7 linked regions of the Homo sapiens genome follow. The protein of the gene in region 7 interacts with the protein of the main gene of each other region in a pairwise test. Each region holds a gene or a part of one and is shown on either strand. Other genes may lie near its edges.

Region 1 (3,500 bases), on a different chromosome or scaffold from region 7:
ACCTTGCTTTGCTGACCAGGAAACATGCTGTGACAAGCTGAGCGGCCATCTGCTATACAGCTTTCTGCCTCTGAGGTGTTCTTAGAGTGGGAAGTGTTGTAGGGAGGTGTTTGGGGGTTCCCAAGACTACCCTCAACTTCACTGATTCACTGGAAGGATGCACAGAACTGTTACACGTATGGTGATGGTTTCTTACAATGAAAAGATGCTGATTAAAACCATCAAATGAAAAAAGTGCATAGGGCAGCGTCCAGGGGAAACCAGGCACAAGCTTCCAGTTGTCCTCTCCCCATGGAGTCATGTGGACAACACTTCTCCAAGCAGTGCGTGACAACACACACAGAGTATTGTCAACCAAGGACCCTCACTTAAGCCTGGGTGTCCAGAGTTTTTTGGGGAGTCTGTCACATAGGCATGGCTGAGTATAGTCTCCAACCCCACCAGAGGTCAAGCTGATAACGTGTAGCCCAAGGCCACCATCATATATCACATTGTTAGCATAGTCTGTCTGACCTGGTCTAAGCTTAGGCTCACTTGAGCAAGGACACTCTTATCAGGCAGGATATTCCAAAAACAAGGAACCAGGCTAGGGCCACACCTCTCTTTGGAATGTGGAGTGTATGGACAACCCAGAGCTGCTGAGCTAGCCTTTTGCTCAGCCCCAGGTTGGCCTGCACACAGACGGCGAGGGGCACCAGCACTACCGCCTTTGCCCTTGGTGGTTTTTCCTGCACCCTAAGACCCGATTTGTCTCTGAATCCACCCCATACTCCAGCTGCCACAGTCAGAGCCCCGGGTTTGAGCATCTGCCATGGGTGCTCACGTATCCCTGCCAAGGCTTGTGCCTGTGCACACTCCCTTGGGAAGGGAGAGATGGAACAAAGATAAATTTCAGATTTCTAGATTCAGCTCACTGACTCCAGATTGGCCTCCGTCTACTTATGATGAACCTCATTTATCAGAACCTGAGTTTACGAGCTCAGTATGAGAAACACAGTATTGATGCCCTTCCGTCAGGAACCTGGGGAGGTCTCGGTCACGGAAGCCCACCTGATGTTATAAGATGTGTTGGCTGCGAGTTGCAGTTGAGATCTGTTGGTCACTGCTGCCCTTTGAAGGCCTTAGTGACATCCTGTGGGTGTTCCCTGCCGAGTCCTGTGGGTAGCCCCGCTCACTCCCCACACGGTTCCTCTGCCCCTGCACAAGCTGCACCCTCTGCCTGGTGCCCTTGCCCCACCCCAACTCTTCGTTGTGATTTGTTTTTAGGAAAACTAAGTCCAAATGGACAGGACCCCCAACTTTCTGACTGCCTAACTTCTCAGTCTCTCCTCCAGCCTCAACAGGGAGCCTCTCTGACCCCCACCTTAAGCTAAACAAAGAGTCTGCAGGGAGAGGTGACTCTGTGTGTGTATGTGTTTGTGTGCACGCGTGCAGTAGCTTTAGTTTCTGCCTCCCCCACAGGACTGTAAGCTCAGTGAAGCAAGGACTCATCTGCCTTTCTTGGATTCCGAGCATTGCAATGTTGTCAACAAATGAAAAGCTGAGATTGAACCTCACTCATCTTGCTCTCTGTTAGACTGTAAACACCATCAGGACAGAGACTTGGGATTGTTTCGTGGACAAAGAGAGAACTCTTGTTGGGGTTCAAGGGAGTAAGAAGGGCATCACCTGTAATGCTTAGTAATCACTGAAACAAGGAAGCACTTTGCATGTGCGTCCTTTACACTGAGGGCACCTGCGGAGCTCACTCCCCTAGCAGCCACCCAAGTCCGTTCAGGGACCTCATTCTCCCACGGGAAGTTGGAGAAGATGGGCCGTGGCTCTGCGGAGGGGGGTGTGGACCTGCCTCGGTACCTGGAGCGGTTGAGGCCTGTCTTGGTGGTGGCTGGGGCACAGGTGTCTGCCTGGCCTGTCCTTACAGACTGTCAGTGTTCTCTTTCCTGGTATTTTGGTGTTTGCTCTGTCAAACCCTTCTTCCTCATTGGTTGGAACTAGGTCACAAGCACATTAAGTCCGGTCATTTCCTCTGCCTTCTGGGGGTGGATTTTAGCAGAAGAAACAACTCCTCCCTTGCTGGCCTCATGACCTCTGGTGAACACTAGCTTTCAGCAAACAGAAACTTCCAGAGGCCAGAGCAGCACTCAGTCGCCTGGCCTTCCAGCCTCACAGGCAAGATAAGCCACCCTCACAGACTTCTCTGTGCTCCCATCTAAACATCTAAATCAGCCATCTGGTTTCCTTAACAGTAGCACAGACTCTGGGAGTTTGAGAGAATGTGTCTCTTGTGAATAAGAGAAAATAAGTCCATACTGGGGAAGGTAGCTCTCCAAATTGAGATGAGGAGGTCAGGGTGGGAGGGTGAGTGGTCGTGGGTTGGCCCTGATGGGAGGAGCTCACCATCAGGGAAGCTGAGGACCTCCCTCCTAATGTGACAGCAGAGTCTTGGCCACCTCTTCATTCCCCAGTCCCCAACCTGGCTGCTCTGAGTGTCTTTCCAGCTACTGGAAAGCTTCTTCTGCAGCCTGCAAAGCTAGCTGGAACTGGACTGTCAGAAAAACATGTAGATGCTGGAGAAAATCTGTTAATCCTAACGTATAGCTCTGCCTTATTCCAGAGAAGACCGCAGTGTGGACATGAAGATGATAAACTTGAGGTGATGGAAGGAGCAGAAATGCCAGATACATTAGCAGCTCTTTTTTCTTTTGAAAACTAGCCCTTGCAAGATTTGCTTGACATACTGAGTGACACTATCCAGAAAACATCTTTTTTTTACTTAAAAAAGGCTGATGGTTTGTTCAGACATCTCTTGTGAACTAGTGAAAAACATAAACGTTGAAAGCTGTAAAATTCAGCAGTTCTAAGTTTATTTCCAGCAAGAGTTAAACAAAGTTTAATAGTAAATTCAACCAACCAGTGTTTTAGCTTTTTGCCTATACATTATGTTTTTAAATTTCACCCATTAAACAAGGACTCAGGTTACACATTGATTCCTTAAGGACTTTAAGGAAGCCACAACCATTTATTTATAGTTGCATTTTGCTCTTCAGGTTTCCAGGATGTTTAAAATTTTTTTTGACTTTGTTTTTAGGCATCAAGAGAGAATATATCTAAAAAACATTTGCATAGTTAGTGTAATTGCTAAGCCACAGGGTGATGGGTGGATAGATTCAGAGGAAGGCAGCTGAGGGCAGAGGCTGCCTGACAGAGCAGGAAAAATGAAGCTCGAGAGCCTTCTGGCTGGAAAGGCAGCTCACAGATGGGCCGCAGCTGTAGATCAGTTCTGAACTAGGGACTGAAGCAAGTTTGTCGTAAATAAAGGAAAGTGGTAGTGTTGATGTTGTGAATGTATATCCACAACCAGAACCATCAGCTCTGGAGGGACCATCAGGCTGCCACTGTGGCCACAGAGCATCACTCACGTCTCCATTGGGCAGATTTGCAGAGACTCAGCAGTGAACAGAGCAAGTCCCTGCCTCGTGGAGCTCATATGCTGTGAGCGG
Region 2 (3,500 bases), on a different chromosome or scaffold from region 7:
CCAGGTCATAACAGGGGTAATAAACACCACCACTATGCTGTAAATTATAATTTTACATCATACAGAACAAATCCCACAAATATTATAGATTTATTGTCCTAGGAAGAAATGCTATCGTTATCACTTAACATTATTCAGTAATTTTAATTAGTTCTAGAACACAGGGAAACCACATTCAAATTTTATGATAATTATGAAAAAGATAGTGATCTATTGTCAAATTATTGTTTTCACAATATTGATAAAATTAACATACATATTATTCAGTCCATGTCCATCTAGGAGGTTATTTCCACACTTAATCTCCCAATAAGTTGTTTAAAGAAATCTTTATCAAGTCCTGCTTGCTATGAAAAGTGTGGAAATAAAGTAAGACATGCCTGGAAATTTTAGTTTCTACTTAAATTAACTGAAGAGAAAAATCTTTATTAGACACCTGTAGTTGAACGTTTATGCATTGGCTTTTGTGACTGTGATTAGAAATTGCCAGAAAAATCAAACCCTTGCTACTCCGAGCTCAGGCCAAAACTCTCTGAGTATGAGTACAGGCATTTCATCCATTCCATAGCTCCAAAACAGAACAAAAATGCAGGGAGTAAAACATGAGCCTTTGTGAAATTATTATCAATAGATACTATAGTGTCTTTGAGGAAAAAGAGTTTAAAACTGAAGCTGGGAAGGGGAGTTAATGTCCCTGAATGTGTAATGAACTAGGAAACAACGCAAATGTACTTAAAATGCCTGTTGTAACACCTGATTAAATTGTTCTTAAGGAGATTCAGGTTTAAGAGTTTGATTAATAGTAATTAATAGTATAAGAGGAATTTATAAAACTGCTTATATATTTTGCTATTTGGGAATAAATAAAACTTTTGTATTTGATGAAAACATTGATAATTGAAAATGTTAATTCTATAAAAAATCTGTACATTTACATTTTAATTTTAAAATATGAATTAAATATTCTTTAGAGATATTCAACATGGATATTATTTCAAAAATGAAGAGGCATTTAATAATTATCATTAATAATAGTAAACATTATCTTGAACCAAGTTGTCCAATTAATTTAGCCAAAAACAGATAGCAACATAAAGAACATCCAAATAGCTTTTTTGGGCTTGGAAAGATAACCCAGCCAGATGGATTTTATAACCAGTGTTATGGTTGTAATTGTCCTTATTAAATTGAAATGAGAATTTTGTCTTATAAGAAATAAGAAAGAAAACTTTTTCATAAGGCAAAAATTCTATCCTGTCGTGTTCTTTAGAACTGGCTCATATTTCTCTCCCTTCTCCCATGTAACTCATTATTCTTGAGAATTAATTTTTCAGCTGGATGGACATGTAGGAAAAGCAGCTTTCATCCAGTTTGATGAACAGCCGTAAAACTCAGTTATTTAACAGTGACTATGAACAGTAGAAATTAGAAAGATCCCCTGCCCAAATGCAAAACACTCAGGCACTTTTTATCTGATTTTTCTAACTCTAAACGCAATGAAGACTGGTTAAACAGATGTAATCAAAATATTCAGGCATCATTCTCATATGCCAAACCCATCAAGATGGGCCTGATGATCATGGATGCCCTTTTCTGTTCTATATGCTCAGGAGATTGGAAAACCCTGCCAAATGCTTCCATTATGCTTTGGGATCTTGAACAATGACTGAAAGGTTTGCAAAGCATCTCAAAAACGATATGGGTCCAGAAGTTGTTTATTTCTGTAATTATATGGCATAAAATAATACATTTGTTTATCTTTTTTAAACAAAATAAGAAGAAATGTAGAAAGAATACATTACCTGATCTTTCATCGTCTTCCCTAAGTCTTTTACATCTTTCATGTTAATGGCATTCTTCCCTCCTTTTTCCTTTCCCTTCTTCTTGTTTTTCTTTTTGAACAAACATTTCTTACAGATACAAAAGCAGCAGGTCAGGACTAAAAGGACTGCGACTATGGCTATTGCAATTAAGGCCCACGGTGGCACTGAAAGAAACACACAGAGAGCACTAGTCATACAACACTTAGATGTGGAAAACCTTTTAACTCATGGGCTATAAAGATATTCATTTTTTTCATTTGCATTTTTGAGCACCTGTTATGCTGCAGGTACACCATTCCTCAGTACTTTATCCATGTTGTTGTCTCCCTTGAGTGTATTGTTTCCTTTCTTTCCCACTTTGCCCTTCCAGATATGTCAAATGTCATCTCCTCCCTATTACTTTTCTTGACTCTCCAAGCTAGATTTCTAGGAACACATCTCTTCACTCATTCAGAGCCAAGCTTTGGAGTTCAGCCATTGAGTTTAAATCCTGGCTTCACCATTTACTAGCTGTGTGATCTTGGGCAAGTCATCTAACCTCTCTCTGCCTCACTTTCCTCATCTCTAAAGTGGAAATAAATTGGTAGGTACCCCATAGATCTTTCTGAGTATTAAATAATAAGATGCAGTGCCTGGCACATGGCAAAAGCTTAATAAATGGCAGCTGCTATTACTCATCTATAAAATACTAGGTGTTGTATTCTTATGTTCTGGCATGGTATGGGGCAGATATTAGTTGTATATATAGAACAACAAATGTCAAATCATAACAATAGTGAAGGTTAATTAAAAGTACTTGGTGATTTGAAAATCAAGCATGGGGAAAATGTATGCACTGAAGTTCTCCAGATGTGGGTGATGCTCATGTGTTCGGTGGCTCTTAACCCAGGTTTAGATTTTGGCTTCGGCCACTTAGAGGCTGTGTGACTCTACTCAGATTGCTTCACTGTTCTGAGTTTCTGTTTCCTCCTCTATACAGTGAAGATTACAGTGGTACCCATTTCATCTGGCTTAAAGATGAAAGGGATTAATATGTTAAAAAGCTTTTAATGCATCTGGAACATAGCAAGAGCTCAATTAATGTTAGCTATCAATTCTTTTTTTTTTTTTTTTGAGATGGAGTCTCGCTCTCTTGCCAGGCTGGAGTGTAGTGGCACGATCTCGGCTCACTGCAAACTCTGCCTCCTGGGTTCAAGCAATTCCCCTGCCTCAGCGTCCCGAGTAGCTGGGACTTCAGGCACACGCCACCATGCCCAGCTAATTTTTATATTTTTTTTAGTAGATACGGGGTTTCACCATGTTGGCCAGGATGGTCTCGATCTCCTGACCTTATGATCCACCTGCCTCGGCCTTGCAAAGTGCTGGGATTACAGGCGTGAACCACCACACCTGGCCAAAGTTAGCTATCATTTCTTTATAGTCAAGGCATGGTGGGTAAGGCAGAGAGCTCAGGACATATGAAAAAACATAAACTACTCACACAAGTAAATACCTAAAAAGCAAGATAAATACACAGAGGGGAGTTTAGTGAAAATGCAAAGGCAATGAGAGGAGGACGGATGATTTTTAGATAAGAGGAGAGGCTTAGGTTTACAGGCTGTTTAAAATAATAGAACATATATACATAAATATACTAAAATAAACATTGAGTTTTCTATTACAGTTGTCTCTCTGATA
Region 3 (3,500 bases), on a different chromosome or scaffold from region 7:
TGGCAAGAGAGCAAGACTCCATCTCAAAAAAAAAAAAGACACCCAGTTATCCTATCTGTTAGAATTAACTATTTCCTAATATGTGATATCCAGTGAGGGTTTACATTTTCCCAGTTGTCCCCAAACTGTTTAATAGCTTTTTAAATATTAAATCAGAAAGCCAGGCATAGTGGCTCACACCTGTAATCCCAGCACTCTGGGAGGCCGAGGCAGGCGGATCACCTGAGGTCGGGAGCTGGAGACCAGCCTGACCAACATGGAGCAACCCCGTTTCTACTAAAAACACAAAATTTGCTGAGCGTGGTGGCGCATGCAGGAAAATCACCTGAACCCGGGAGGCAGCGGTTGCGGTGAGCCAAGATTGCGCCATTACACTCCAGCCTGGGCAACGAGCGAAACTCCATCTCAAAAAAAAAAAAAAAATTAGCTGAGCGTGGTGGCACCTGCCTGTAATCCCAACTATTTGGCATGCTGAGGCAGGAGAATCTCTTGAACCTGGGAGGCGGAAGTTGGGTGAGCCGAGATCACGCCGTTGCACTCCAGCCTGGGCAACAGAGTGAGACTCTTATCTAAAAAAAAAAAAAGGAAGAGTCCCGGGTGCGGTGGCTCACACCTGTAATCCCAGCACTTTGGGAGGCAGAAGTGGGTGGATCACCTAAGGTCGGGAGTTCGAGACCAGGCTGATCAACATGGTGAAACCCATCTCTGCCAAAAATACAAAATTAGGGCGTGGTGGTGCATGCCTGTAATGCTAGCTACTTGGGAGGCTGAGGCACTAAAATCACTTGAACCCAGGAGGTGGAGGTTGCAATGAGCCAAGGTTGTGCCATTGCACTTCATCCTGAGCAACAAGAGCGAAACTCCATCTCAAGTAAATTAATTAAATTCTTCCTCTTTTCTGAGCATCGCTATAGGCTTTAATTATAGGTTTTAATGTATTGGTTGTCTTATTATTAGTTAGGGCAATGATTATTGTGAGTGCTCAAGTTGTTCCAAATATGTCTGGTGGGAGCCTAGAGGGTTTAAAAGGCTGAGAGAAAATAAAGGTATGTTAGCATGCCAATGGAAATGATGCAACGGATAAATTTAAAAATGATAATATAGGAGAAAGATGGGAGAATTCTTGAAATGATGTCCTTGAGAAGGTGAAAGGAAGTGGGCTCCGGGGCATAAATCAAGGCTTGGCTCTAAGAGGAGCTGGCGATAGGTGGGAAGACAGAGGCTATTGTAGCAATGCTCGGGGTGGAGCGGCATTTATCTTCAGACCACTTCAGTCTTCTCAGCTCATTAAGAAGAAAAGCCAGTAGAGGAGAGGAGGTGTAGGAGGTTTTAGGAATCCACTCCTGCCCACTTGATCTTATCCCTTTAGCAGGGTCCAACCCTGATTGATCTTTATTCCCCACGGTATCTAGCAGAGTGCTTTTACTCTACGTTGTTGATCATGTGAAACTGAGTGAACACCTACATTTGTATAAAGCCGGTTTCTGAACATCAATCCACTAAGCAGCCTCACACATTTAACTGGCCAAGGTAAAAGAAAACACTTGGAGATTCTGATTCGAGAGATGTGAATGGAGTGGGCTTTTCAGGGAGCTTCATTTTTACAAATTCCATAGGGGGTTCTGATGAGCATCCAGGTTTGGGAACTACTGATTAAAAGAAAGTTTGTTTATTCAACTACTATATGTTGAGCACCAGCCATTTATAAGGTACCGTGAGTACAGCTGTCTTGATCCTAGAGTCAGGAGAATTGACTGATTTTTTTTGTTGTTGTTTGTTTGAGACAGTCTCACTCTGTCACCCAGGCTGCAGTGCAGTGGCATTATCTTGGCTCACTGCAACCCCTTCCTCCCAGGTTCAAGTGATTCTCCTGCCTCAGCCTCCCGAGTAGCTGGGATTACAGGCATGCACCACCATGCCTGGCTAATAATTGACTGATTTTTTTTTTTTTTTTTTTTGAGACGGAGTCTCACTCTGCCACCCAGGCTGGAGTGCAGTGGCAACCTCCGCCTCCTGGGTTCAAATGATTCTTCTGCCTCAGCCTCCCAAGTAGCTGGGACTACAGGCACGAGCCACCATGTCCGGATAATTTTTGTATTTTTAGTAGAGATGGGGTGTCACCATATTGGCCAGGCTGGTCTTGAACTCCTAGACCTCGTGATCCGCCCACCTCGGCCTCCCAAAGTGCTGGGATTACAGGCGTGAGCCACCGCACCCGGCCTAATTGATTTTTATCTATTTCAGCTGAGACCTAGGGAACCCCTTGCAGAATTATGCCATAAACACCATAGCTCCCTGAGCTATGTTGTATTTTGAATATTAGAATATTAAGTCTGGGCGTGGTGGCTCACGCCTGTAATCTCAGCTCTTTGGGAGGCGAGACAGGCGAATCACGAGGTCAGGAGATCGAGACCATCCTGGCTAACACGGTGAAACCCCATCTCTACTAAAAAAAATACAAAAAAATTAGCCGGGTGTGGTGACCGGCGCCTGTAGTCCCAGCTACTAGGGAGGCTGAGGCAGGAGAATGGCGTGAACCCAGGAGGCGGAGCTTGCAGTGAGCCCAGATCACGCCACACGCCACTGCACTCCAACCTGGGCAACAGAGTGAGACACCGTTTCCAAAAAAAAGAATATTATAGAGTCAGTGAAACAGAATTATAAAAGATATGGAGGGCCAGGCGCAGTGGCTCATGCCTGTAATCCCAGCACTTTGGGAGGCCGAGGCGGGCGGACCACCTGAGGTCCAGAGTTTGAAACCAGCCTGACCAACATGGAGAAACCCTGTCTCTACTAAAAATACAAAATTAGCCAGGCATGGTGGCGCATGCCTGTAATCCCAGCTACTCTGGAGGCTGAGGCAGGAGAATGGTTTGAACCCGGGAGGCGGAGGTTGCTGTGAGCTGAGATCGCACCATTGCACTCCAGCCTGGGCAACAAGAGCAAAACTCCATCTCAAAAAAAAAAAAAAAAAAAAAGGTATTTGAGTTCTTTCCTCAATCCATATACATCTAAAATAAAGTTATAGCATATAGGCAACTTTACATTCTAGTCTTCCTTGAAACAGTGTCATAAGTATTTTTCACTGTTAGCATGTGTTTGCTCATTGGTTTAGCAAACATTTGTTGCTGCTGTGAGCTAATCCTGCTGGGTCTGAGGATAAAAGGGTGAAAGACCATTCTGGTCCTCCTGGAGCTCACTAGTAGGAGAGACATAAGTTGACAGTGACAGCTCAGTATGATAGGGCAAGAAGAGAAGGGGATGAGGCTGGGTGTGGTGGCTCATCCCTGTAATCCTAGCACTTTGGGAGGCCGAGGCAGATTACTTGAGGCCAGCAGTTCAAGAAAGCCTGTGCAACACAGAGACCCCGTGTCTATTAAAAAAAAAAAAAAAGGGATGAGAGAACTCAGAGTAGGTACTGCTCCTAGATGGGGCCAAGGGGCCTTCCCAGAAGTGATACCAAGCTAAGACTTGGAGGGAATGCCAGCCCAAAAAGGGGA
Region 4 (2,221 bases), on a different chromosome or scaffold from region 7:
TTTGAGTGAGTTTCTTAATCCTGAGTTCTAATTTGATTGCACTGTGGTCTGAGAGACCATTTGTTGTGATTTCTGTTCTTTTACATTTGCTGAGGAGTGCTTTACTTCCAACTATGTGGTCAATTTTGGAGTAAGTGTGATGTGGTGCTGAGAAGAATGTATATTCTGTTGATTTGGGGTGGAGAGTTCTATAGATGTCTATTAGGTCCACTTGGTGCAGAGCTGAGTTCAAGTCCTGGATATCTATCCTTGTTAACCTTCTGTCTCGTTAATCTGTCTAATACTGACAGTGGGTTGTTAAAAGTCTCCCATTATTATTGTGTGGGAGTCTAAGTCTTTGTAGGTCTCTGAGGACTTGCTTTATGAATCTGAGTGCTCCTGTATTGGGTGCCTATATATTTAGGATAGTTAGCTCTTCTTGTTGAATTGATCCCTTTACCATTATGTAATGGCCTTCTTTATTTCTTTTGATCTTTGTTGGTTTAAAGTCTGTTTTATCAGAGACTAGGATTGCAACCCATGCTATTTTTGCTTTCTATTTGCTTGGTAGATCTTCCTCCATCCCTTTTTTTTGAGCCCATGTGTGTCTCTGCATGTGAGATGGGTCTCCTGAATACAGCACACTGATGGGTCTTGACTCTTTATCCAATTTGCCAGTCTGTGTCTTTTAATTGGGGCATTTAGCCCATTTACATTTAAGGTTAATATTGTTATGTGTGAATTTGATCCTGTCATTATGATGTTAGCTGGTTATTTTGCCTATTAGTTAATGCAGTTTCTTCCTAGCCTTGATGGTCTTTACAATTTGGCATGTTTTTGCAGCGGCTGATACCGGTTGCTCCTTTCCATGTTTAGTGCTTCCTTCAGGAGCTCTTGTAAGGCAGGCCTGGTGGTGACAGAATCTCTCAGCATTTGCTTGTCTGTAAAGGATTTTATTTCTCCTCCACTTATGAAGCTTAGTTTGGCTGGATATGAAATTCTGGGTTGAAAATTCTTTTCTTTAAGAATGTTGAATATTGTCCCCCGCTTTCTTCTGGCTTGTAGAGTTTCTGCCGAGAGATCAGCTGTTAGTCTGATGGGCTTCCCTTTGTGGGTAACCGACCTTTCTCTCTGACTGCCCTTAACATTTTTTCCTTCATTTCAACCTTGGTGAATCTGACAGTTATGTGTCTTGGGTTGCTCTTCTCAAGGAGTATCTTTGTGTGGTGTTCTCTGTATTTCCTGAAGTTGAATGTTGGCCTGCCTTGCTAGGTTGGGGAAGTTCTCCTGGATAATATCCTGCAGAGTGTTTTCCAACTTGGTTCCATTCTCCCCGTCACTTTCAGGTACACTAATCAAATGTAGATTTGGTCTTTTCACATAGTCCCATATTTCTTGGAGGCTTTGTTTGTTTCTTTTTACTTTTTTCTCTAAACTTCTCTCTTACTTTATTTCATTAATTTGATCTTCAATCACTGATACCCTTTCTTCCACTTGATCGAATCGGCTATTGAAGCTTGTGCATGTGTCACATAGTTCTCATGCCATGGTTTTCAGCTCCATCAGATCATTTAAGGTCTTCTCTACGCTGTTTGTTCTAGTTAGCCATTCGTCTAATCTTTTTTCAAGGTTTTTAGCTTCCTTGCGATGGGTTTGAACATCTGCCTTTAGCTCAGAAAAGTTTGTTATTGCCGACCTTCTGAAGCCTACTTCTGTCAGCTCGTCAAAGTCATTCTCCATCCAGCTTTGTTCCGTTGCTGGCAAGGAGCTGCAATCCTTTGGAGGAGAAGAAGTGCTCCAGTTTTTAGAATTTTCAGCTTTTCTGCTCTGGTTTCTCCCCACCTTTGTGGTTTTATCTACCTTTGGTCTCTGATGTTGGTGACCTACAGATGAGGTTTTGTTGTGGATGTCCTTTTTGTTGATGTTGATGCTACTCCTTTCTGTTTGTTAGTTTTCCTTCTAACAGTCAGGTCCCTCAGCTGCAGGTCTGTTGGAGTTTGCTGGAAGTCCACTCCAGACCCTGTTTGCCTGGGTATCACCAGTGGAGGCTGCAGAACAGCAAATATTGCTGCCTGATCCTTCCTCTGGAAGCTTTGTCCCAGGGGGCACCTGCCTGTATGAGGTGTCAGTCGGCCCTTACTGGGAGGTGTCTCCCAGTTAGGCTGCACGGGGGTCAGGGACCCACTTGAGGAGGCAGTCTGTCTGTTCTCAGAGCTCAAACACCATGCTGTGAGAACCACTG
Region 5 (3,500 bases), on a different chromosome or scaffold from region 7:
AAAGGCCATATTAGGACTTATCATCTGAGTATAAATTATTAATACTGTCACACCAAGTGGAAGCATGTGGGAATGCTCATTGCCCTTTAGTTAATTTGTAGGATTGCTTCATTATACTTTTACGTATAGTCTGTTCAGAGAAAAATATTAAATTTGTCCTTCCCCAACAAACTTGATATTGTAGCTGCTTAAATAATGGCTATTGTATTCCAAGCATCAGCTGAGAACATAATACTCAGACTGTGTATCAAAGTTTTGAACTTTGATATTTGTCTGTGAAGAGCCTTCTGTGGGAATGGTGGTTGCTGAGGATGGTGTATGATCATAAATGTTAACCTAAATCATGCAGTAACTTGACCATGGAATGTTGTCTGTGATTTCTCTCCTTTGCCTCATCTTGATTACAGAGAGGTACAGAAAGCAGTCAACACTGCCCAGGGATTGTTTCAGAGATGGACAGAGCTCCTCCAGGACCCCTCCACAGCAACAAGGGAAGAAATCGACTGGACCACCAACGAGCTGAGAAATAACCTCCGGAGCATAGAGTGGGATCTAGAGGACCTTGATGAAACCATCAATATCCTTTTCTGTGGTGTCTGTGCCATTCGGGATAAATAGACAAATGGACAAGTTTTTCTCCAGTTGTTTCCAGTATGTAGATGAAACATTTTATAATCGATTAATGTTTGTTGCTCTTACTTGTACCATGACATGTTTAAAGTATTTGCCCAGTAACTTAAGGTACAGTAGCCAAATTCTTATACAGTGTGTGACAAATCCTGTACTATAAATGTATATATATATATAAAGGCAGCATAGTGTAATGATTATGACTGTGGACCCTGGAGTCAGATTTCTGGTGTTCAAGTCCTGCCTCCACCAATGTAAAGGGAAAAAAAAAAAACCCTTTTTTTCTTTTTTTTTTAAGTCTCTACCCTCACACTCAAGTCAGTATGATATTTCTGACACTGTCTACTTGGAGATAGCATCAGGTCCACAGGTTAAGAGCTCAGTCCCACAAGACTGCCCCCACTTCAGATGCCAGTTGCAAGCCCTAGGTTGTGACCAGCGCTTCCAACTGACCACGTATAAATTGGAGTTCCCACGACCCCCTCCATAGATCGAATTAATTTAATTTGCAAGAGCAGCTCACAGAACTCCGGGAAACAGTTTCCTTAGGTTTATCCATTTGTTGTAAAGGATATTACAAAGGATACAGATGAATGACCAGATGGAAGAGATGCATGCAAGGTATGGGAGAAAAGGTGCAGCACTTCCAGGCCCTCTTCAGGTGCCTCCAGGAACCTCCACATGTTCACCTATCTGGAAGCTTCCTGAACTCTGTCCTTTTGGTGTTTGTGGAGGATTCATTTCGCAGGCATGATTGATCACATCAGTTGGCCATTGGTGATCAGCTCAGCCTTCAGCCCCTTTCCCCTGGGGTGGGGTTAAGCAGGGGGCTGAAAGCTTCAACTGTCTAATCACATGGTTGGTTTCTCTGGGGACCAGCCCCTCGTCCTGAGGCTATCTAGAAACCCCCAGCCATCAATTATCCCATTAACATACAAAAGATACTCATCTGGAGATTCCAAGGGATCAAGGAGCTGTGTGCCAGAAATGAGGGGGCAGAGACCGAATTTGCATTTATTACAGTATCACAACCAGTTACCATGTGACTTGGGCTCATCACTTAACCTCCTGTGCTTCCGTTTCCTCTTTAGTGGAAAGTTAGGATAACAAGAGTACCTAGCTCATAGGATTATTGGGATTATACAGGTAAAGAGTTTAGAATGGCACCTGGCACACAGCTTATGTAATAGTGTTAGCAGTCATTATCATATAGAGGTCCATACAGGCCAGTGTTACACTTCGGTAATTAGAGATCAAAAAATCTTTTTGTAGACTGTCTTCATGTTTAAGAAGTGATGTTACAGTGCTACCGTCCATTGAAGAGATGTCTTGTTCCATGAAACTGCATTTAGTAAAAGCAGATCTGCTCTGCTAATTCATGGTATTGATGTGAAGTAAGTCCACTGATCTGACTCATGCACTGGAGAACTGTAAAAACTTCATTATATAGCCTTTTTTTCCAACTGGAAATCCCACTTAACCAAAACTTTAGATGGAAGATATGCCACTTGCATGTTCTGAGTTCTGTTTTGTTTTTTCCCTAAGTGAGATAAAACATAAGGAAACCAGCTTCTGTCAGGATCACCTTATAGTTAGCACAGGTTCGTATGCAGTTGATACATGGAGTAAATAATTTTTGTTATTCATGATGACCCTGGTACCTTTTACATTATTAAAAGGCAAGTATGTTCTCTAAAATTAGTGGCAAATATGTGAGGGGGCAGGATCAAAAGCACAGTTACAGGGAGATAATTCTTCCCTTGAGAAAGGAGGGAAGGAAAAAAAGTTAGGGGAGATAGAGAAAATGTGAGATTAAAAAAACAAAAGTTTTAATAGATACTCATCATTCAACCAGCAAGTGTTTATTGAGTATACTATGTGCCAGGCATTTTGTTGGTTACAGAGATTAGATTAATAAACACTATACCAGCCCTCACAGAACTTTGAGTGGATAGGGATGGGGGACAGATGGTAATCAAGTAATAACACAAATAGATACCTGCAGACTATGAACGAGAAGTATAGAGAGCTATGCAAGTGTCTGACATGGTGCGTCGGACCAGGCTAGAGGGTAAGGGAATGAGGGCAGCTTCTCTGAAGAAGGCCCGATCTCTCTAGATTAAGAAGTAGGGTTAGCATCTTGGCATAATGGGAAGTGGTTTGGAATGGCAGGAGAAAAAGGCTTGCAAAAGCTGTCTTAGTAAAGGTGATCAGGAGTCAAAAAAGGATAGACACAAGTGTTGGCAAACAGGAAGAGCCCAGCTCACCTGTGGTCAGATAGCCCTAAGTGTTTGCAGTGAAGCTCATCAGCAGGGGCTATGCTTCCTAACCAGACAGATCATCTCTGTCTTGGAGCAAAGGGATCCTCCCTCCTGTGGCTGTGGGCAGAGGAAGTCTGAGAATGATTGGTGTCCAGCTGACTGTGTTTTCAGAAAGTTTGAGCCAGATTTTATTTGTTTGCATGTGAGAGATTCAGTGAGTTAACAGGATGTTGTCAGGCTTTGATGATGAAATTGTTTTACCTTGACTTTTTGACCTACGCATAGTTGAAGCAAATCCTAGAAAATTTAACCTTGATGCAACTGAATTGAGTATAAGAAAAGCCTTCATTACAAGTACTCGGCAAGTTGTCAGGGTAAGGAATATGATCTTATTGTGTTATCTGTATAAGAAATAGCCAGACTTCTTAGAGCTCTTTCCCTTAATTGTAAACTAATAGGTCACCTCTGAAACCACTTTTTAAATATGAATTAAATGTGAGCTTCCCCATATATAATTTCTCTGATTGGCTGCGCATGGTGGCTCATGCCTGTAATCTCAGCACTTTGGGAGGTGGAGGTGGGTGGATCACTTGAGCCCAGGGGTTTGAA
Region 6 (3,500 bases), on a different chromosome or scaffold from region 7:
AGTCAGATGCCATATCAACACATTTTCTGTACTCTGTCATCTTAAAATTCATTGGTCTATCATACCCTTGGAAGGAATGTTTTACCCACACATGATTTTGTAACATAAAAAGTTGATCATTTGGAAATGATTGGTTCACTGTGTTACACAGATCTTCCAAATGTTGATACAATTTGTTATACAATATCAAAATATCACAACTACTAACATTACCATGATCTCATCAGAAAGTCTTCAAGTAAACTGTCAAGTTCATGCTGATGGATGCAAGTTTTCTAAAATTCTATTCTTTCTTGAAAGATTCAATTTTATTATTTATAATAAACACCATCAATTGTAATTGTAGGAGTGATGGGCTCATTTATCTGTAAGAAATTGTTTGACAAATAGAAAAGACCGCATAACCATCGTTTTTAGGTAGCCATTCTTTTAAGAAAGAAATGGAATTCCATGAAGAAAAGCAGCTGGTCGAATTTGCAACTCAAGCAAGCACAGACATACTCTGCTTGAAAATAGCCGTGCTGCTCAGGAGGTGGAGGAAACACTGTGCCTTCTTCCCATTTTATTACACAGGACATAGAACATTAAAAATAACGTGAGCTTTAGGGTAAAGATGTAATAAAACTGTTATGTTTCCTGCTTCGTCAAGTGTCTGTAAGTGAATCTGGCATTTTTAAAAAACCAACTCACAGTATGCATCGGTAAACAGTACAATGAATAGTCATCCTGTTAGTGTCCCTGCTGGGATTCATGGTAACGCCCAGCAGTCTCACCCACCATGGCTTTTGCTCCAACAGTGCAAATGTCAACACCATGAGAAAGGCAAACAGCACCTCAGCATTGTCATGAAAACGATTTTCTTCTTACAGATCACCTAAAATTGTCTCAGGGATCCCTACAGGTCTGTGAGCTACATTTTGAAAACATCTAATACAGTGCTAAAATTTTAGTTTATTTTTAATGTTTGACCATTACAAATGAGGCATCAAATGAACTTCTTTATGCATTGGCCTTTGTCTGATTTTAAGATTATTTCTTTCGAGAAAAATTTCCAGAAGTATGACCATTGGATAAATAGGTATAATACTTTAATGTAATTTTTAGGAGACATAGATTTAAACGAAAGCCCTTTGAATCATTAACATTTATTCTTTAAATTTGCCAGATCAGTATAAATGAATGTATTCATCTTAATCCTTTTGAAGTGACAGAAACCAACTCAAACTAGCTTATGGCCAAAAGAATAATTTATTGTCTCTTATAAACAATATATTTATGATTTTAGGAAATAATTCTATTGAATAATTTTTTCTTCAGGAGCTTCTTTTCTTCTGAATACTTATCATATAGTATAAAACTTGTCAGCTCCTTTGCAAGTACTTGCAAACAAAAGAAGGAAAATATTATTTTATGTGGTATTTTATTGCCTGGAGAGAAATGGCAGTTGTTGGGATTTGGGGCTTGCCAAATTTTTCAGAATAGTCGGGAAAAGCTGCCTGGAAAAAGTGAGATTTTGAGCAAAGATGTGAAGGGGTTCAAGACAGCTCATGGATACCTGGGGAAGGGACATCCTAGGTAAAGGGAAGAGATACAACCACGGTGTCTAGAGTTTGCCTGGCAAGCTTGAGGAATAACAGAGAGGCTGGTGTGGTGGGAGCCAAGTGAACAAGAAAACACTAAAAGGCCCTGAGTCAGAAGGAGCAGAACCTTTTCACGGGGGACTTACTAGATCAGGACTTCGGTTTTCAGGACGTGGGGTTTTCTGCTGAGTGAGATGGGGGCTTTATTGGATGACTTTAAACAGAAAAGTCACATGGCCAGACTAAGGTTTTAAAAGGATGCTTTTAGCCAGGCAAGGTGGGACGAGCCCGTAGTCCCAGATACTCCAGAGGCTGAGACAGGAGAATACTTCCAGTCTAGTAGTTTGAGGTTGTGGTTGTGGTGCACTATATTTGCACCTGTGAATAGACACTGCACTCCAGCCTGGGCAACATAGTGAGACCCCATCTCTAAAAAGAAGAAGGACGCATCTGATTCCTGTGCTGAGAATGGTCTATTCGGGGAAAGGGGGCAAGTAGAATGACCTGTTGGAAAGTGAATCCAGGTGAGAGATGATGGTGGCTTGGACCAGGGGGAGAGCAGAGGAGGTTGGGGGTAGAAGACAGACTCCGGATCTATTTCGAAGGTCTATTCAGTCGGTTTTCCTAGTGGTTGGATACAGGTGTGAGGAAAATAAAGACATCAAGGATCAGGTCAGGCTTCTGGCCTGAATATCAGGAAGAATGGCATTGCTTTCTACTGAGTCAGCAGAAGATGCAGTGGAGCCGTTTGAGGAAGGCGATTAGGAGTCTAGTTATCGATGTGTTGAGGTTGAAATACACACTAAACAAAGAAGTGGATGCTGTCAGTAGGAAATTAGATATGGGAGAGTAGAGTTCAGGAATCCAGGCTGCAGATCTGGTGACATCAGTGAATAGATGATGTTCAACACCAAGGCCTGAACAGGACCCTCAGGGGACTTTGTGCACTACACCGCAGATTTTAACTTCATATGTACAGGCTTCCCCAGCCCCCAGTCAGGCTCACATTAGAACCCTTCACCAAATATCTGAAAATAAAGTCTGACAAAAATTCAAACAAGGACTGTTTGAAATGTAAGTTTACCTATTTTTAGATTTCCCAGATTGGCACAGATCCATGTATTGACTATGACCCCATTGGTTGCAAGGTGCGAGAACCCAAATTACCTTTGCTTAAGCAGCCAGGTGCAGAGGCTCACTGCTGTAATCCCAGCTACTTGGGAGGCCTAGGTGTGATGTGGTACGCACCTGTAGCTCCAGCTACTCCGGAGACTCAGGCAGAAGAATGGCTTGAGGCCAGGAGTGCAAGACTGTGGTGAACTACTTCCAAAACACAGTAACAGTTTTACACCATTCGCAATCTTAGCCTTTACTCAGAACTTAGAAGGGTCTTAAATAAAATGACTTCTGAACATTTAAGTTTACATTTTAAAATATTTTAACCTCAGCACTTTGGGAGACCGAGGCAGGAGGATCACTTGAGGCCAGGAGTTTGAGATCAGCCTGGCCAACGTGGCAAAACCTGGTCTCTACTAAAAATACAAAAATTAGCCAGGCATGGTGGCACACACCTGTAATCCTAGATACTCAGGTGGCTGAGGAGGGAGGATGGCTTGAACCCAGGAGGCGGAGTTTGCAGTGAGCCAAGATAGCACCACTGCACTCCATCCTGGGTGACAGGGAAGACTCTGTCTCAATCAATCAATCGATCGATCAGTAAAATGTTTTTAAATGAAATATTAATATATAAAGTAAATTATACTCCAATGGTCAGGATTGTAGTTTATCAAGGCTTTTTAAAAATTAACCTTTACTATTTTCAGTTACCAAGTATTAGGGGAGGGAGATAAGAAATTAGCTAAATTTTAGGAAAAGACTTAGAATTTTGGCTTTCCCTGTGGATTAGGATTGAAAGAGACT
Region 7 (3,500 bases):
GAGTAGCCCAAGACTTGGCTACTGGTATTGAATGGACAGATCAGGGAATAGTGGCTTAGTGCCCAGGGACACTTGGAAAGTCTGCTGGAGCTGAGGTGGAGAAGCTTTCATCGCTGTTTGACTTGATTCTGGTTATTTTTATATTTGCCCGAGGTGCACTGGACCACATGGATTTTTGCTTCTGACTAGAATGCTTCTTTTCAGTGGAATATAATTTTTCTAGGGAGGTCCAGTGCTTACAGCATGGGCTGCTCTGGGGGGGACTTGTTCCTCTGTGTTTAATTGTAGTGTCTTCTTCAGCTGCAGGAAACGCATTTTGTCAGGCAGCCAAGCTCCACATGCAGCTTCAGAGCAAACATGACTCTGCTACCAGCTTTGTGGATGCTGGAAATGCTTACAAAAAGGCAGATCCCCAAGGTAAGACAGCCAGGCATGTAGCATGCTATCTCTGTGTGTAACTAACCAGTCAGTACTTCCCTCAACGTTAAGGTCAGTGTTGGTGTGCTTTCAAGTCCTGGTAAAAAGGAATTTTTGTATTTTGGAATAATAGAGAATTTTGATAACCTTAGGGATTTTTCTTTTTTAATCATTTGGGGGCTTTTATGAGGAGAAATTATGTTAAATTTATACTGGCTGTTTACTTTATAGCATCATTTAATTAAACTCTTATTTATATTGCATTTTAGAGAATTTTTTGGAAATTACCTTTAATTTTATCTAAGACTTCTTATATCTTAATTTTGTGAAAATGTATATTGTTCATAAAAGGAAACTCTTATGTTCCCTTACTCCTAAATACCTAAGGAGTTTTCAGATCCAGTTAATGGGAGATTGTAATATTCAATCGTTAAAAAGTCTGATTCATACAGTATTCATTTGGTTTTTTAAAAAGTTTTTCAAAGTATTTGTTTTGAGGAAAGAATGCAATTGGATATTTAATGTGGTAAAATTTTGCAAAGATTATTTCTTTTTAGTTAGAAGAGTGTAATTAAAAGTATTAATTTCTTACCTTCCACACGCGTGCACAGCGGAAATTTTGTGTTTTTCCTTTTTCTTTTAGCAGTCCATTTTGTTTAACACACAGATCCCAAATTTTGAGAATAAATATGTCATAAAGAAATAGGGTATCTTCAATACCTTTGGTATAAGGGTTAATCACAGTTTATTTCCCAAAGTGACAAACTGGACACAGGTTAAATAAGCTGTTAGAGTGGTAACATTGTAATGCATCAGTACTTTAGAATATGGTGCAGGCATTAAAATCCCTGGTTTCAGAGAATCTTCAGTGACCTGGTAAATGTTTACATGTCAATTAAAGAAGCACATGAGACTGAATGTTGTATAATCTCATTTTCAGAAAAAAGTTTGTGCATATAGAAATGTGTCTAATAAACGCAAAAGGAAAGTACATCTGAGTACTAACAACGGATTTGAGCGGGATTATTGATAGATTATTTTTCTCTTTATATTCTGTATTTTAAAAGGTGTAACAGGGATCCACATTTTTTATGTAGTTTAGAGGGAAATTGTTTTAATTTTTGTTCATCTGCTTACCTTTCTAATTTTGTAGTCAGGCCTTTCTACTTTGCTGCCTCTTTAAACCAAACGTAATAAACTTGGAGCTGTCACTGTATGCCAGCATCATAAACACCATCATTTTATGATAGGGAAAATTTTTTGGCTCACTTGTTTAGAAAATTAGTAAAATTTATTAGCATTATTATTTATTAGATTTGTTTCTTCATTTTGTTAGTATGCTACAATTTAGCATCTTTGAACATTATACAGAATGTTGACTTTGCTTAAGGGTTGTTTGAATAGGCATTTCAAAGTGCTTTTGCTTTTGGCTGCATGGAGAGTAGAATCTATTGAGGTGATTGTTCTTGTGATGTGGTGCCATGTTCCAAAATTAATATATATGCATGGTATTAATGAGGAATATGTTTGCATTCATATTTTAGCAGATACAATTTATCAGTGTTGGTGACAACCTCTATGGTTTTATTTTCTTTATAATACAGTCTTTTGCCTGGATGGAGTCCTCACTTTAAGGTTAAGAGTAACTAAGCCAATGTTACTCCAGCTACAGTTCCCTAAATTATACTATAGCTGCTGGGAACAAAGCCATGCTGATGAATCTGGACTTGTGCATGATTTTTGTTTGCTTCTCATTAACCTGCCCACCCTCCACTCCAAAATTATACCTCATTAACGTTCTGATAACAGCCAGGAAGACAGCCTCACCTGAACCCTCTTTGACTGAATGGATTTTTCATTGTTTTTCTTAAATGCCTACGCTTCAGAGGCTATCAACTGCTTAAATGCAGCCATCGACATTTACACAGACATGGTAAGACATTGCATTGCTTGAGTGGCTGTGGGGTGGAGTCTTGAGATGGCTTAGAGTTCTATCTTTCTTTTTTATGTTCCCAAACTGGCATTCAGATAGGTAAAATCGGTGTGTGACTGTTTCTTGTTTTTTCCCCTAGGGAAGGTTTACAATTGCAGCCAAGCACCACATTACTATTGCAGAGATCTATGAGACTGAACTTGTAGACATTGAGAAGGTAAGCAGTGGGCACACTTCCTCAGATGTGAAGCAGGCAGATAAGCTGACTCAAAGAACTCTCCTCTCCTCAGTCTGAGAGTGATCGTAGGTGTAGAGTGGTCATAGATGGCCTTGCCTGGAGACTTTCTGGCAAAGTCTACTAGCTGGCTAAGTAGATGGGCTGTTTTCCTGGAGTGGACATCTAAGACATGAGAGCTGATTAAGATTTACAGAGATCACCTGTTGTTTCCACTCTCTCTGATTCATGTCAGAACATTAGCATTGCCAAAAGAACCTTCAGCTGTATTGCTTAGTACTCTAAGGCCCAGTGAAGAAAGTGTAAGAGGTCACCTCTGTACACTCAGTCAGCATCACAGCTTTAAGTATCTGTGTGCCAGTGACTCAGAAATCTGACTGCAGCCTAGACCTCTCTCCAAATGCTAGATTACTGTATCCACCTGCCTGCTGACCTCTCCACTTTGTCCAGCAGTCATCTCTAACCCAACATGTCTGGGACTGGATTCTCAGATGTCCCCAACCCAGTGTTCCCCGCTAAACTACAGGCTTCCTTGCCTTTTCTCTTTCTCTACAACCTGTGAGCAATTTTTGTGAGCGGTGTCCTTCCTGCTCCCAAGTCTTGGCACAACTCACTACCTTGTCTCTCAGCTCACACTTGATCGCTGCAGGATCCTTCAAACCGGTCTCCCTGCTTTTGCTCTCCCTACCTTGCCAACCCCACATCCCCATGCCACAGAGTAGCCAGAGTGAGCCTTCTAAGCATTGCATCATACTCTGTTTCTCTACTGCTGACAGTCATTAGACCCCTTTCACTAAGAGGAACAGCTGGAGCTGTGCAGAGCCTTCATGGGTCCACTGAATTGCTTCCTCCCAGCCCCACACTCCCCATGCATCTGTGTGGCCTGGCCTCTCCTCTTTTCTGTTATTCTCCTCC

What was found.
Region 1: the proteins of NAPB (region 7) and SNAP29 interact in binary tests that used the Homo sapiens proteins (3 or more experiments, as listed by UniProt).
Region 2: the proteins of NAPB (region 7) and SYT1 interact in binary tests that used the Homo sapiens proteins (3 or more experiments, as listed by UniProt).
Region 3: the proteins of NAPB (region 7) and STX5 interact in binary tests that used the Homo sapiens proteins (3 or more experiments, as listed by UniProt).
Region 4: the proteins of NAPB (region 7) and TAF1B interact in a two-hybrid assay, tested with the Homo sapiens proteins (one large-scale study listed by BioGRID and IntAct).
Region 5: the proteins of NAPB (region 7) and STX6 interact in binary tests that used the Homo sapiens proteins (3 or more experiments, as listed by UniProt).
Region 6: the proteins of NAPB (region 7) and DSCAM interact in a two-hybrid assay, tested with the Homo sapiens proteins (one large-scale study listed by BioGRID and IntAct).

Annotation. Positions count from the first base shown.
Region 1 is NC_000022.11:20,865,507-20,869,006, forward strand, and holds part of SNAP29 (synaptosomal-associated protein 29), read left to right. Parts: intron 1-3,500. UniProt on the Homo sapiens protein: SNAREs, soluble N-ethylmaleimide-sensitive factor-attachment protein receptors, are essential proteins for fusion of cellular membranes.
Region 2 is NC_000012.12:79,284,274-79,287,773, reverse strand, and holds part of SYT1 (synaptotagmin-1), read right to left. Parts: intron 1,988-3,500; coding exon 1,803-1,987; intron 1-1,802. UniProt on the Homo sapiens protein: Calcium sensor that participates in triggering neurotransmitter release at the synapse. May have a regulatory role in the membrane interactions during trafficking of synaptic vesicles at the active zone of the synapse.
Region 3 is NC_000011.10:62,811,552-62,815,051, reverse strand, and holds part of STX5 (syntaxin-5), read left to right. Parts: intron 1-3,500. UniProt on the Homo sapiens protein: Mediates endoplasmic reticulum to Golgi transport.
Region 4 is NC_000002.12:9,930,474-9,932,694, forward strand, and holds part of TAF1B (TATA box-binding protein-associated factor RNA polymerase I subunit B), read left to right. Parts: intron 1-2,221. UniProt on the Homo sapiens protein: Component of RNA polymerase I core factor complex that acts as a GTF2B/TFIIB-like factor and plays a key role in multiple steps during transcription initiation such as pre-initiation complex (PIC) assembly and postpolymerase recruitment events in polymerase I (Pol I) transcription.
Region 5 is NC_000001.11:181,002,371-181,005,870, reverse strand, and holds part of STX6 (syntaxin-6), read left to right. Parts: intron 1-407; coding exon 408-577; intron 578-3,170; coding exon 3,171-3,265; intron 3,266-3,500. UniProt on the Homo sapiens protein: SNARE promoting movement of transport vesicles to target membranes. Targets endosomes to the trans-Golgi network, and may therefore function in retrograde trafficking.
Region 6 is NC_000021.9:40,333,159-40,336,658, reverse strand, and holds part of DSCAM (cell adhesion molecule DSCAM isoform CHD2-42 precursor), read left to right. Parts: intron 1-3,500. UniProt on the Homo sapiens protein: Cell adhesion molecule that plays a role in neuronal self-avoidance. Promotes repulsion between specific neuronal processes of either the same cell or the same subtype of cells.
Region 7 is NC_000020.11:23,393,989-23,397,488, reverse strand, and holds part of NAPB (beta-soluble NSF attachment protein), read left to right. Parts: intron 1-288; coding exon of another isoform or gene 289-300; coding exon 301-417; intron 418-2,021; coding exon of another isoform or gene 2,022-2,212; exon of another isoform or gene 2,213-2,263; coding exon of another isoform or gene 2,264-2,303; coding exon 2,304-2,350; intron 2,351-2,489; coding exon 2,490-2,567; intron 2,568-3,500. UniProt on the Homo sapiens protein: Required for vesicular transport between the endoplasmic reticulum and the Golgi apparatus.